2 linked regions of the Homo sapiens genome follow. The protein of the gene in region 2 interacts with the protein of the main gene of each other region in a biochemical or structural test. Each region holds a gene or a part of one and is shown on either strand. Other genes may lie near its edges. The genes, in order: SRPK1 and SUDS3.

Region 1 (3,821 bases), on a different chromosome or scaffold from region 2:
TGGAGTGGGGTGGGGTAACAGAAGGACTTTTCATGATCACGATTACCATTCTACTTTCGTAAGTATATTTAAACTTTTCCATAGTAAAAGGTTTTTTTAAATGTAAAAAAATATTCACTGAAGTGTTGTATCAATCTGGGTACAGAATTATGGATGTTTTGCATAACTAAGTCCAAATTCTCATTCATCCTCCCAGTCACTTCAAAACACCATTAAGGCAAGTTTAACTTACCACCCAACAAGCATTTCCAAGGTCAGCAATCTTCACCTTGAGCTTTTCTGCATTTTTTGGCTCAAGGGGATTAACAAGAAAATTTCCAGCCGTGGATTTTCCTACAGACAACAGGCATCATCAATAAGACTGTTCAATGAACAGAGAAATACTCAATGAGTAATAAAGCTCTCCAAGGTAAGAGTAATACAGTCAGCAATACCCAAGTGACAACTTACATTTTCTGAGACAAAAAGAGCACAGCAACGCCTTGAGTTTCCAGAATTAAAAACCTCTGCCCTCACAGCAACAAATGAAGTGCTGTGTACTCAGTACATGATGGATAAAGTTAGCTACAGATTACAATTTAAACGTAACTTAGACACACCTGTTGTAAAGCTATAGTTACAAAAACAATCATACTTTTAGTCTAGAAATCTGTGAATGTGTTGTGCAGGGAAGGAGTGTTGAGGAAGTATAGCTGCATAGGTACCTTTGTTGTCCAGTGGTCCGTTATGTTCTTGCTCTTGTTCATCTTCACAGGGTATCTCTGCCCGAATGCTTTCTTGAAGTTGGCTAATGTGTTGTTCACTGAATGACTGACCTACAGTTGAGGAAGACTGGCACACCATGGTGTCTGACACCTCAGATGTTATAGGTGTACAAGAGTCTGTTTCTTGAGATGTGCTGCTGTCTCCATTTTGGGAGCTTAGGAAACTAGATTCCTGATTCAAATTTTGGACATCACAGTCATTAGCATTATGTAGATCCTCTTTATGTCTCAATGTTTCATTATTACTGTTCTGAGTATAATTAATGACTTCAATCACTCCATTGCAATTAATTTCTGCTGCACCACCCTCTGTATCACGTTCCATAAGCGTTTGATCCTGGCCAATGGTACTTGACTCTTCTAAGGAACAAACGAACAAAAAAAGATATATGCATATGTGTGTGAGTGAAAGAACAGAAACATTTCTCACAAGATTAAAACATTTTCTAGAACTTATACTGAGTGACATAAAAACATGACTAAACATCTAAAACCTATTTCCGGAAGGGCCAAGATCTTACTTTTACCCAATTGTTAAATGAAATCTATGTTCCATTTCCTGAGAAAAGTTACAAATTACATTTAAATATTACCTGCCTAACATTTATGACAAGATCCATATTCTTATAAAGATACCCCCAGAGATGTGTTGTATGTATGAAACCACTGTATTATATAGCAATGATAAATTAACGTTAAAGTGTGTTGTACAGTAATTTTCGTGATGTTCTATTTATACCAAGTTTTTCTTGGGTCATTTTATTAGGTGGGTTCTCTTTCAAGGGTCTTTCAACAGGACTCTCTGATTCTTCTTGCTTGTTTGGTCTTTTTTGCCCAGGGCCCGACTCTTTCTCCATTTCCTCAATTTCCTGCATTCGCTTCTCTAGTAATTCTGCCTGGCGCTTCTGCTTCTTCTTCAATTTCTTCTTCTTATTCTTTGACATTTTGTCAGCCTGGGCGGAGATTACAAACAGATAAAGCCTTCAGGTGGCTAATTAATTACCCCCAGTTGGAGATAGTTGTTAACTTTAATTACTTCCTAATTAAATTTCACAAATCTTTCCCTAACATAGCACTTAAGTCTTTCATTAAATTAAAAGATGCGGGATACTCTTATAAACCCAAATAAAAACAGAATAAATAACAAAGTGTGGTCTTCTGAGCAGTCCGTGGGGTTGGTTTACATTCAGACAAACTCGAATTTTTTAGAGGCCTCACCAGTACAAATGTGATGAAGGTGCATGGGAATTTACTGGAGAAAATTATAGAAGCGCAGGAATTTTTTTTCCTTTTGGTTCTCAAACTTGAAACAAACTGTTACCATCCACAACAGAAGAACCCATGCCCATAGTCCATAGATCAAAATTAAATATAAAAACACCTTATACTTACTGGTTTAGGCTGGGGAGCAGTACTGACTGAAAAGAAAAGAAAACCAAGTAAGAATTCTGGCATTCATCAGGCAATATAAACTAAGGCTCAGATAAAACACTCTACCAGAATGAAAAGTCTTTCTTATGTAGTCTACATTGCAGAGAAAACTATTGTTTTTAAATGACTTAAGTAGAAGCTATATTATTACCATTTTTAAAGAAAATAATGAATAGAAATTGCCAAACTTAAAAAAAAGGGATAAATAAAATTCTTCCTCCCCAGGTAAACTAAAGTTGCTAAAAATCACCTATTTTCCATTCCCATGCACTGCTTAAAATAGAATGGGACAAGCAACAACCTCTTCACCTCAAATGCTACCCAGAATCTGTCAGTTTTAAAAGGGGAGTCTAGGTGACATCAAGAGCTATAGTAATTTGCTCTACAGCATGTCATGGATAACAGTGTAGCTTAGCTGGAAGGTAGGATCTTCAGTCTTCCTCTTTTTAAAATATTAGTATAATAACTGTGGTTAACAAAAAACACATAATAAAAATTTATACTCTAGATAAGTGTACATTCAGTGGTTTTAACACTATTCACACTGTTGTATAACAGGATCTGTAGAATGTTTTCATCTTGTAAAACAGAAACTACATCCATTTAACAACCAACTCCCCATTTCCCCCTTCTTTAGTCTTCCTTTTTAAAGAAGTGTATAACTAATAACTCAACTTGAGGATCAAGCAAGTTCCTAAAAAATGACACACTACTAAAACTAAAATCTGTATCTCAAAAGAAAAAAAATCATAAAGCAGCCTTTATTTATTTATTTAATTTTATGTCTTAGACAGGGTCTCACTTTGTTGCCTATGCTCGAGTGCAGTGGTACTATCACAACTCGTGGCAGCCTTGACTTCCTAGGCTCAAGCAATCATCCTGCCCCAGCCTCCTGAGTAAATGGACTACAGGCACGCATCACTATGCCTGGCTAATTTTTTTAATTTTTGTAGAGACAGGGTCTTACTGTGTTGCCTAGGCTGGTCTCAAACTTCTGGGCCCAAATCATCCACCCACCTCAACCTCCCAAAGTGTTGCGTTACAGGCATGAGCCACTGTGCCTGGTCCCGCAATTTATTTGGTATATAATATTGTGTGGCACACTACTAACTGCTTTACCATTTAATCCCAATAATTCGCAGTTGAGGGAAAATAAAGTAAAATAACTCAGCTAAGGTTTCTCAGTCTAGGATGAAGCCCAAATTCAAACCAAGTCTGTCTACTCCAGTGTTTAAACCTAAACTATTAATAGCAATGTTATCTTGTCCCTCTACAGACTACCAGTCCTATAAATGAGCATGTGTGATCACAGTTAGAGGTAAACACTTCAAAAATCATCAACTCATAAGAAAAAATATTTTTAAACAATACACACCAGCTTTTATAACATACAACACAAAGACACAATATCTAGTTTTCTCCTTCCCCTATGGAAGTAACAGTGAGAATGTCTCTTGGAAGCTGATAATGTTTCTTAAATATGTTATTGTTGAAATGGATTGAGTGGTGTTTAATTCCCTGGTAACAGAATAAAAATAGAAATTTCTTTTTAACTTCTAATGATAGCGAAGTCCCTAAAAGAAAATACACCTGCAGATCCGGAAGGCGGAGGAGCTCCAGATCGCT
Region 2 (4,300 bases):
TTTTGTTTTGTTTCGTTTTCTCCTTAATAGAAAAATGTTAACTTACTGGGAATAGCTACTCAGCCTTGGAAATGGAGAGCACTGCAGTGAATTCTTTAGGGCACTTTTGTGGCCGGATGCTTCCAACTTTGTCAGTCTTTTCTGCCTCAACTTCTTCCAGACATCAGTCACCATGAGACTGTTTTACTTTCAGGCGTATTGGGGGGTTTGATTTACTTTCCTTTTATTTCTTTATTTTTTGCTTATACTTGTTTTTGAAAACCTCCTCTGAGTTTGAAGGGACAGCTATTTTTATTGATTATCTTTAAGTCTCTCTACCATGGAGAAGAGCAGGAAGGGATACACTCTCCAGTGCATTTTCATGTTTTGAATCTGATTAGTGGATCACGTAGCTACTTTCCCTGTCGCGTCCAATTCACTATTTGCCCAGAAGCTTGGGGCAGAGGTCCTAGCAGGAGATGATGAATTCTCGTGGCTCTCGGCCTTCTCAGAGAAATAAATGCTTTGTGTAACATCTGTGCACACCATCCATTCCGCTCGCTGAGCGATGGAAAAGCTTGCCTGGAAGACTATGTGCACTGAAGTAAATGGGGTTGGGGGAGGGGACATTTCATATTTATAATGTGCTGAAGGTACCATATTTTAAATGTTATTTAATGCAGGTGATTTATTCAAACATTTGTTCTAGCTTAAGCTGGAATAAGCAGTGGTCATTTCAGAAGTTTTCATTTGTAATTCCTTCCTCTCCCTTGTTCCCAAGTAGGTAGTAGTAAGTATGTGCCACAGGCTGATTATCTGGGTAATCTTTTACGGGTGGGAGGTGAGATTGATAGTGCAATAATCAGTGATCTATAGACCCTCATGCACGATTCAAGTTTCACTCTTGTGGCTGATGCCATTATTGCACATTGGCCATTCCAAACCTGTGGAGAACTTTGTTGTCAGGCCCTGAGCGCTCACAGCTTCATTTGGCCCAGGTTGAAGACAAGGAAAGCTCTGCTGTGGCTGCCTCTGGACTGACACCCTCCCTAATGAGTCCTGATGAAACAGCCTTTCCTACATCCTTCCCTCACTCCCATGATTGGAGAAATGATTCATTGGGTGATGAGTGTTGGGGTTTTCTATACTCATGTTGCCATCTTGAGATGTTCAAAAAATTTGGGGTTAGAGCAACTGTTAGCGTCTCTATGAGCAATCAGTAGAACTTACACATCCTAGGAAATCTTTCTTTGTAAGTAATTCTTTTGGTCTCAAGTGATTCTCTTCATGTTGTCTCTTGATGTACATACCCCCAAGCAAGTTGGGGGGACTGTGATGACAATTAAATCACCTTCTCTGAAGTTCTGGCTCTGCAGAGACCAAACCTTACTGACTTGTACAGACTTGTACAAGTAAAGACTTATACAGATAGATTTTTGTTTTAACTTACAATCCGTTTTTTCCTCTTTTTTTTTTTTTTTTCTGGTGTTGGAGTCTTATTTAGAAAACAGGATAAATGACGCTGTTATCAAAAGTTGCCTGGGGTTCTGTATTTCTTCTCTGCCCTCCAATCCCCGACTGCTATGATGTTTACTACAGTGAACCCAGCCCATGGTAAACACAGGCTTCACCTGTTCTTGTTTGTTAGCCTTGACTGTGAGGCAGGACTTCCCTCGCTTGAACTGTTACACATACGATGTGTGTGTCACATCACATATTGTGCAGCTGTTGGTTTTCATGTAGTGCCCTGCGATGGAAATTAGATATATTTCATGTATTTTTCCATTGAAGGTGGAGTTTTTCAATGATCATGTGTTTTGTCCTCCTAAACAGTATACCAAAGTTTGTTTTTATAGTTGAGGATTGTATTGATAACCACTGGGGTTCCGCATTGAAGCAGGAACAAATTGCCTCTTTTTCTGGCCTTCTCTGTGGGACCTCTGCTTTTGTGAAGCAACTATTTATTTGAAGACCAGGGTATGGGCACTTTTGCCTTCTCTCCTCTCTGACTTTTGAGGGTATTGAGGGCGCCCTTAGTCATAGTCTCGACTCCGCCATTGCCTTCTCCTCGGCGTCCTCACAACTCTTAATTGGGCCTAGTGAAAATGGGGGCAGGTGAGAAGTCCATTTTGAGAATCAGCATAGTAAATTACATTTCTAATCCCAGAGGACTTAATATTTTCTTTTGTCACCCCAGAGGTGAAAAATCAGCAGTTGAAGCCTGACAGGCCTCAGTGGTGACCAGGAACAGAAGCAGCCTTCCTGTTAGTAGATGGGGGTACTTCTGTGGTGGGCAGAAGCCTTACTAAAGGGGAAGACAGACTTTGAAGTTTCTAGACGAGAAGGAGGCTAGCTTCTAGCCTGGGTGGCCATTATTCCAAAAGGTCATTGTTTCTCACTAGACCCCAGGGCACCAGATGAATTTCCAAGTTTAAACTCTTTCCTGCAGGTGATTACTTTGAAAAAGGTTGGTCCAGACCATTTTGATCAAGAACCTGTATATGTGTTGTGTTAGAGGCATCTGCCTCAAGTCTATGTACAGTGTTTGCTGCGGGTGTGTTCCAATATTCATTTTACCTCTGCTTGGGGGTTTTGTGTGTTCCCCTCCCCCCATGCCCTGCCTACCCCCTTTTCCCTGAACCACGTCCTTTTGAATAATTTCCAGATGGATTTCTGTAGCCATACCAAAGCCAGGGTGTTTTCATTCATGCGGATACTAGTATTTATAGATGTCTGACTACCTAACTTAATTTTTGTTTTTGAACTTCTAATTGGGGCCAGTGTAAGGTCGATCCCAGAGGCTGATCTGCAAATCAAGCTACATGTATTTGTGTATAAGACCCTGTGTTCAGGACTGGGTGACTTTTCTAAGAAATATGGGGTTTAGAATGGGGTTGACTGTATTTTTTAACCTAATTCTGGAGAGAAGATTGTATTTTTTACAGTTTTTTGGGTTTGGCTTCCTTCTCACATTTCTTTAGCTTTGAATTTTTACTAAATAAATTTCCTCCTGATTAATTTTTTTTTTCTCATCTGGGAATTTGAAATCTCGGTGCTTACTGTTACACCAATTTGTCCAAAGAGTTGAAATCACTTTAATGCCAGAACATGGTAAATTTGCAGCCATTTCAAGCAGGTGATGGTCTTTTTTTATAACATCGTTAACGGGTACCATTAAATATTCTGAGAGGTGAATGTAAAATATAAAAGGTATAGGTTTTTTTTTTTTTTTAAAGAAAACAATAAACTTTCAAAGAGAAAACCAGCATGAAGTCTGTATTGTATCCATTGACTTGATAAGTGATAGAAATTTATTTTAGGTTTTTGATCCATTGCTTATGGGGAAAGGAAGTTAGGGCAGAGGAAGGGATATTCTAGACATTTAATTCTTAGTGAAGACTAAGATACAGAATGATGTCAGGCTAATACTCAGTTTTGTAAAGAGCAATCTGGGGTGTTGACCCTTAAATGTTTGTGCACTCTTCTTGTTGCAGATAAAAGTCATTAAAAATCAAGTGAATAGAATGGATCTTGGGTGGAAAAACAATCTTGAAATAAACTTGTGATTGAGGATATTGTTCATTTGGTGCATGATTAAGGAGGATATTGTTCCTGGCTTTTGAGATAGTGCCTACCAATCTTAACCAAACAGTGATGGTATTTGTACTGCTCCCGGGGTCAGCCAACAAGCCTGCGTGCTGCCACAGGTGACCGACCTGTGACCCAGTTATGGCACCCCTTTGGGAAAGACTGCTTTATGCTTTAGATGATGGAGAGGGGTGGTTTCTGTTTTTAAAATGTTTGAATTAGACAGAAATGTGCACAAGTTTTAATTGTAGAAGTTGTTGAAATCTCTCAAAGTGAATTCATCCATGTAACTATTATAGCATCCAGATCAAGAAATAACATTCCCAGAACCCACAAGCCCCTTAGACTTTCAGCTACTCCTCCCAACTAGTTTTCTCTATTTTAAGTACCTTAACCTTCAAGCTCTTGAGCTGCTTCCTTCCATGGTTGTTCTAGAAGAGCCAGGTACCTGGTATAGGCTAGGGATTGACCAGGAATGCAAAGAGCTAGCAGCAAAGGATATGACTAATTGGGGAGGGGAAAAACAGATTCAGGTCAACCTGCTCACCCTCCCCATTGTTCCCAAGGCAAGTGGGGCTTGCCCTTGATGTCATAGTCTGCCTTTTCCTGAGTACTTTGTATATATGCCAGGCACTGTACTAAACCCCTCATGGGAGGCACTTTCTCACTAATCTTCACAATCTCTGAAAGAGTACTAACTCCCAAATTTAAGGCTGGCTCAGTCTAAGCCTTG

Evidence for each region.
Region 1: of the proteins of SUDS3 (region 2) and SRPK1, one has a biochemical effect on the other in vitro, tested with the Homo sapiens proteins (one large-scale study listed by BioGRID and IntAct).

The regions. Positions count from the first base shown.
Region 1 is NC_000006.12:35,868,778-35,872,598, forward strand, and holds part of SRPK1 (SRSF protein kinase 1), read right to left. Parts: coding exon 3,786-3,821; intron 2,183-3,785; coding exon 2,157-2,182; intron 1,718-2,156; coding exon 1,504-1,717; intron 1,125-1,503; coding exon 705-1,124; intron 334-704; coding exon 233-333; intron 1-232. UniProt on the Homo sapiens protein: Serine/arginine-rich protein-specific kinase which specifically phosphorylates its substrates at serine residues located in regions rich in arginine/serine dipeptides, known as RS domains and is involved in the phosphorylation of SR splicing factors and the regulation of splicing.
Region 2 is NC_000012.12:118,414,482-118,418,781, forward strand, and holds the end of SUDS3 (sin3 histone deacetylase corepressor complex component SDS3), read left to right. Parts: 3' UTR 1-3,552; downstream 3,553-4,300.